Homo sapiens: one gene and its partner. The protein of the gene in region 2 purifies or fractionates together with the protein of the main gene of each other region. This does not show direct contact. Each region holds a gene or a part of one and is shown on either strand. Other genes may lie near its edges.

What was found. The genes of interacting proteins can lie anywhere in the genome.
Region 1: the proteins of GFPT1 (region 2) and ASNS fractionate together in Homo sapiens (co-fractionation; one large-scale study listed by BioGRID). This does not show direct contact.

The regions. Positions count from the first base shown.
Region 1 is NC_000007.14:97,865,817-97,869,473, forward strand, and holds part of ASNS (asparagine synthetase [glutamine-hydrolyzing]), read right to left. Parts: intron 3,364-3,657; 5' UTR 3,341-3,363; coding exon 3,092-3,340; intron 1-3,091.
Region 2 is NC_000002.12:69,335,092-69,338,748, reverse strand, and holds part of GFPT1 (glutamine--fructose-6-phosphate aminotransferase [isomerizing] 1), read left to right. Parts: intron 1-183; coding exon 184-304; intron 305-693; coding exon 694-851; intron 852-3,657.

The DNA.
Region 1 (3,657 bases), on a different chromosome or scaffold from region 2:
ATGTGCCATTCTATTACCCTTTGTGGGCGTGCTTGCATGGGGAAATCCGGGCATGTGTAGAAAAGTTATACTGCAGCTGAAGCGGGCTGAGAGGGTCTTTTTTCCCTAGGGAACGCCAAATAAACTGCGTGTTTTACACCTGCATTTTGACTGTGACATCAAAATGCACATGTAATGTCATGTCAGTGCTCAAAAAGTTTCAGATTTTGGAGCATTTCAAATTTCAGATTTTCAGATTAGGGATGCTCAACCTCTAAATTTAAGTTAAGATAATAGGTTGCCTGGTTGCCATGACACTAAAAAACGTGTCTTTTGCAACTATAAACTTTTGATTTGAGAAGATAGTATTGGCTAAGAAGTTCCTCCAGTTCAGCTTCAAAGTCCTAGCTATAAAAATGTAAAGCAAAGGGACAAACATCATTTGGCATCATTCCCTGAAAAATAAATGGCTCCATCACAATAACAGATACATGATCCAAAACAAAGCTGCTGGTCCCCAGGGGTGGATGACAATGCCCAGTGCTTCCACCACTGCAGCAGCATTAAAGCTACTCCTTACTGATAGATAAAATGACGGTGGCGCTTTATTAGTCTGCATTCCCCAAAAGAACAGCAAAGGGACTGTCTGCCACTGCATGCAGAGTAAGAAGGTTTGATTAGGCTACTCCCCAATTCTGACACTCTCCACCATCAACGGCAAACTATGAGCCATTAATGGCAAACTATGAGGATGAAAAGTCCTTGATGTATTCCTCTTTCTTCTTTGTACTCGGGTTTTTGGCTGACATTAGAGAAAGAAGAGGTTTAAATCAGGTGGAAATCCTAGATAAGCTTAAAACATGCTTTCAAATTTCAAAAAGTAAACCTATTATGTATGTGCATGACCCATAAATATGCTTCACACTCCATCCAACTCACTCCATAATTTGTGAATCTTTTGTCTATAAGTCCTCACTGAACTGTCCAAAAATGGGCTTTGCCTCCAGTGACTACAAAGTCACTACCTGGTCACCCCTCTCTGCTCTATCAGGGATGATCTGTAACTAGCAGGTGGGGGCCTGTAAACAGTCTTCTGCTGACTCTTCTGGGCTGAACTGCCTGAAGGGTTAGTGACCATAAAGCATTCGGTGATATTAGTAAGCAACAGCTTCCCAAATCTACCTTACCCACCTCTTTGGCCTAAACTTTGCAGGTAACTTATTTAAAAAGGAGAAGGGTCCTTTGGGTAACGGATGTATTACTTCCTACTCTCCTAAAACCAAACTCCAATGCTGCACCTTAAATAAAAGCCCTCAAATCTTGCCTCCTGACGTCATGCTGTCATTTGACTTGGCTGCAGGCCCTGATACTCCCCTGCAGGGAGAGGGCCTGCTCTTTGCCCCAGCCTTTACCCCATTCCTCCTTTCTTTCATTCAGTCTCCTTCTACTCCCAGTACACCTCTGGCTGTATTTTATTGTAGTGGTAAACTTTATTTTTACCAAAAAGGAGGTGTGGGGGGGATTTCTGAATACTTTATATAAGCCTAAAGTATACATTCTGCTCATTAGACAGACTGCTAGCTGCCCCAACTACATAAACTTAGATGCTTGGTAGAAGCAATGGAACAAACTTCTCTACTTTTACAAATATAACATTTGGCTAATTTAGAATAGAAATTAATTATTTTCAAAATATTTAACTTCTTGTAACTTTTTAATAAAAGAAATAACACTGTTCAAGTGAAACAGGGCACTTCCTATTTCATTTAAGGGGAAAGCCAAGCTGATAATGCCATAATACCACCTAGCGTTCTCATGTATATGACATTATTTGACTTAGAAAAAATTTTTAATACTCTCTTCTTCTACCTCCCACTAGCAGGAAATTCCATTCTTGCCTTTCCTTTTCACCATTTCATCTCCAATCACCTAGAAAAATGATGTCTGGTGCATAGTAGACCCTTAATAAAGGAATAAAGAAATGTGTAAAAGGAATTTCCTGAATAACTATTTTAAAACTTTTTAAATGAGAAGACTATTATTAAGAGTCTTCCTATGAGCAGGCAACAAACAATGACAAAAGCTATTGTTCACAGATAAAAATGTCCAAAATGTGATTAGGATGTAAATCTCTATCAATGCCTGACAGGTATCTATCAAGAAGTCTCAAAAAATACCAAGAAACATACCAACCAAATGCATGAACCTTGAATGAAATCTGGCTCAAAACAAACAAGAACCAGCTATAAAGATATTCTTGGTAGCACTTTGAGAGGTCAAGGTGGGCAGATTACCTGAGCTCAGGAGTTCCAGACCACCCTGGGCAACATGGTGAAACCCTGTCTTTACTAAAATACAAAAAATTAGCTGGGCATGGTGGCAGGTGCCTGTAGTCCCAGCTACTTGGGAGGCTGAGGCAGGAGAATTGCTTGAACCTGGGAGGCAGAGGTTGCAGTAAGCCGAGATCGCACCACTGCACTCCAGCCTGGGTGACAGAATGAGACTCTGTCTCAAAATAAATAAATAAATAAAAATATTCTTGGGACACTTAGGGAAATTTCATTTAAGTATTAACTGGATATTAGGTGGTATTATGGACTCTTAGGTTTAATAATGGCATTGATGTTATGTAGAAGAATGTCCTTATTCTTAGGAGATAAATGCTTATATATTTAGGAGTGTCATAATATCTGCACTGTACTCTCAAATGATTCAGCAAAAACATGTGTGTGTGTGTGTGTGTGTGTGTAGAAAGAAAAATCAAGCAACTATGGCAAAACATTAATGACTATTTAATCTAGGTGCTTGTTGTTCTGTTCTTTACTGTATGTTAGGAATTTTTTCAAAATGAAAAGCTGGGGAGAAGGAGAAAAAATTCTAAGAGTCAATGAAACTGAACTGTAATCCCCATTTTTATCACTTTTTTTGTGACCAAGTCATTTCACTCACCTTTTTATTCATCAGTTCCCTATTTACATACTTAGAGCAAATGAGATAACGAACATAGAGTGCTTTGCAAAGGAAAAAGCATGATACAGAATATGTAACATCATCGTAACCAACAAACTCTGAAGTTTAATCGCATCCAGACATCTGGTTTCTTTCTCCTCACCTTCTTATGGTTGTAGATTTCACCATTGTAACAGAGCCACAAATACGGATATTTCTTCACTCGAATTGGCTGCATTCCAAACAGCGGGTCAACTACCGCCAACCGGTGAAATCCAAAGCAGCAGTTGGTGTATCCATTGACATTCTCAAAACGGAATGCATCTGGACCTCTGTGTGCAATCTTCATAGCACTCAGACACTGAACAGAAAGGCAATCATCACTGCCAAACAGCGCCCAAATGCCACACATGGTGCAATGAAGCTATAAGCTTTCTATGGAGAGAAAAGCAGACAAATCAAAAATATTCAATATCCAATCCAACTCTGCATTAAATCTTGATTCCGGAAACGTGCATAAACCACTTCAAAGACTAAAATTTAAACCATCTTTTCTATAGCGATTTCCCATTAGGTTGGCAGGCACATGGGAGTAGAGAATGATTTAATTTACTTACAGGTATTCGGAAAAGATAGTGACCTCTACATTCAACCGGCTACAGCAGCTTAGCACCTAGCCAAAGCCTGCATCTCTCCCACCTTAGGATTTAGTGGTTGGCTAGAGCTGAC
Region 2 (3,657 bases):
GCTTATCTCAAGTGGTAGGATTTTGATTTTTTTTTTTTAAATATTTTAATCTGGGTTGTTTTTATTTTCTAACGTGTCATTTTTGTAATCAGAAAAAGCAAAAACTATACATTGAATCCAAAGAAGTCCGATGAAAGAGTATTTGAAGGAAAGTTCTGTGACCAAGTCATATTTTCTCTGCAGACACGTCAAGTTCTTGAGGAGCTGACTGAGTTGCCTGTGATGGTGGAACTAGCAAGTGACTTCCTGGACAGAAACACACCAGTCTTTCGAGATGATGTTTGCTTTTTCCTTAGTCAATCAGGTGTGTTAATTTTAAAGACTTAAAAGGAAGGAAAGTTATTCTTTCTAATAATTCTAGCATATCTTGGCAAAAGCTGATATTTAAAGATAAACTGGCATTGCAGATGACTTGACGAATACAGATTTATTTTAATGTTACATAATTCTTTATGAATTAGTAAAAATGAACACCTTTTGTGTTCAAAGAGCTGGATTTTCAATGACAGAGAAGGAAGAGAGATCCTGACAAGCCATATTACTTAAAGTTTTATAAATTTATTAAGTGGATGTTTTGTATTTTATTTAAAACAAGTAATATTGTTGAAAGTGTGGTCAATTTGTTTTTGCTCCTAAGAAACAGCATATGTTAAAACTGTTCTGTGTGTTATGGTTGGCCTACTTTTTACACAGGTGAGACAGCAGATACTTTGATGGGTCTTCGTTACTGTAAGGAGAGAGGAGCTTTAACTGTGGGGATCACAAACACAGTTGGCAGTTCCATATCACGGGAGACAGATTGTGGAGTTCATATTAATGCTGGTCCTGAGATTGGTGTGGCCAGTACAAAGGTAAATTCTTGACTCATTTCTCTGATGATTATTTAATCATAGTGTCAGTGAAGCAGACTAGTCTGTAGACTAGTCTGTATCTTATTTTTGTTAGCAGTTATAGAACTCACACATTTTATTTTTGTTAGCAGTTATAGAACTCACACATTTTACTAATCATTGTAATTATTGTAGGACTTTAGGGTCAGATAGATAAAAGACTTGTCATTCTCTCCCTCTTCCTGATAGAGTTTAAAAGGGACTTATGTATATAATGTAAGTCCATTTTGAAAAGGTCTCTGCTGGCTATCCTTGTCTATCGCTTACTGCCCTCCTGCTAGGCACAGTAGGATACATAACAAGTATATAACATCCCCTTCTTTTATGAAGTATAGTCTGGAATTTGAAAAGTAACAAATTAGAAACATCCACTTTAACCATTTTTGGAATTTTTATTTACCTATTTATGGTTTCTAATAAATAATGTAAAAATATACATACTACCTCTGAAAGTTTGTAAGGAGGAATACACCTTTGGTATAAAATTTGGCAACTGCCAGGCATGGTGGCTCACGCCTGTAATCCCAGCACTTTGGGAGGCTGAGGCGGGCGGATCATTTGAGCTCAGGAGTTCAAGACCAGCCTGGCCAACATGGTGAATCCCGTCTCTACTAAAAATACAAAAATTAGCCAGGTGTGGTAGCACGTGCCTGTAATCCCAGCATACCCGGGAGGCTGAGGCAAGAGAATCACTTGAACCTGGGAGGTGGAGGTTGCAGTGAAGCGAGATTGTGCCACTGCACTCCAGTCTGGGTGACAGAGCAAGAGTCCATCTAAAAAAAAAAAAAAAAAAAAAAATTTAAAATTTGGCAATTAAAAAAAATTTTTTAATGAGTATTGTATGACAATATCTTTCTCTTTAGATATTGCTCTGGGGAGGTTTAAAGGTACTGTCTTGTGTTTTGAAGGCCTGGTAAGACTACTTTGCTCTTTGGAATTGGAATATGCATAAATTTAGGTGGCTAATAAAAATAGGAAATCTTAGAAAGTTGTATAAATACAAGAGATGTTATCCCTCCACAAGTGTTTTTTTGGGGTTTTAGGTTTGTTTGGTTGTTATTTAGAGACAGGGTCTTGTTTTGTCACCCAGGCTGGGGCTGGAGTGCAGTGACAGGAATCATAGCTCCCTGCAGCCTCAGACTCATGGGCTCAAGTGATCTCTGCCTCAGCTTCCTGAGTGGCTGGGACTGCAGATGCACCAGGCTAGTTTTTTTTTTTTTTTTAAGATGGGGTCTCACTATGTTGTCCAATGTGTTACTTTTTATGATTTCACATTTTTGTTTTCTCAATATTTTTCTACTTAAGTTTGATATTTCTTGCTGATTATCTAATAAGATGTTGGGATATTGGTGGATTTGAGTTTAATTAAAGGATTGTGAAAGACAATGTTAATGTGTACATAACTGCATTTGAATTCTTTTCCCTCAAAGATTCTCATAGAGAATTTTTTGTAGAAAGTTTGTGATTCTTATATAAAAATTCTTCTTTTCTTTTTCTTTTTCTTTTTTTTTTTTTTTTTGGAGACAGACTCTCACTCTGTTGGCCAGGCTGGAGTGCAGTGGCGTGATCTCAGCTCACTGCAACCCCCGCCTCCTGGGTTCAAGCGATTCTCCTGCCTCAGCCTCCCAGGTAGCTGGGATTACAGGCACCTGCCACCACGCCTGGCTAATTTTTGTATTTTTGATAGCAATGGGGTTTCACCATGTTGGCCAGGCTTGTCTTGAACTCCTGACCTCAAGTGATCTGCCTGCCTCAACCTCCCAAAGTGCTGGAATTACAGGCATGAGCCACACTGTACCTGGCCCCCCACCTTTTTTTTTTTTTTTGGAGACAGGGTCTCTCCTCTTTATCATCCAGAGTACATAGAGTGCAGTGGTGCTCATGGCTTACTGCAGCCTGGACCTTCCCAGGCTCAGGTGATCCTCCCACCTTAGCCTCCTGAGTAGCTGGGACTACAGGTACAGGCCACTACCCATGCCTGGCTAATTTTTGTATTTTTTTGTAGAGACGGAGTTTTACCATGTTGCCTAGGCCAGTCTCGAACTCTTGGGCTCAAACGATCTGCCTGCTTTGGCCTCCCAAAGTGCTGGGGTTACAGGCATAAAAACTCTTGAGTGAGATTTTTATTTCTTGGGTATTTCGATATTGCTAACACTATAATTTACAGAGTGCTGAAACTTGAATTTTCTCCATATGGTAATTAAAACGTGTTACATGTTTGTGCTTGGGTTTCCATCCTGTGGCTGAATAAATGACCAGCCACCTTTAGTAGCACTTAAGGATTTGATTGGGGGATTGGAATCCCAGAGGCTCTTTATTTATAACAGATTGTGAAACAAGGGCTACAACGTGGTGTATGTGGGATATGGGATTGTTTGGATGGATGCCATTGACTTAATCTTTTCATAAAATGTTTCTGGAATTGTGAGCTGCCAAGGGAAATATATATTTTACATTTCTCATTCCTTTGTTTATGAGAACTTTAATTTGCCTCAACATTTTATGATGATGATTTTCAAATATACAGCAGAGTTTTAAAAATTTTACATACAGGCTGGGTGCAGTGGCTCACAACTGTTATCCTGGCACTTTGGGAGGCTGAATTGGGAGGATCACTTGAGGCTAAGAGTTCAAGACCAGCCGAGGCATCAGAGTGAGACCTTATCTCTATAAAAAATACAAAAATTAGCGGGGCATGGTGGTGCGTGCGTGTAGTCCCAGCTACTCAGGAGGCTGAGGCACGAGGATCCCTTGAGCCTGAGAGTTT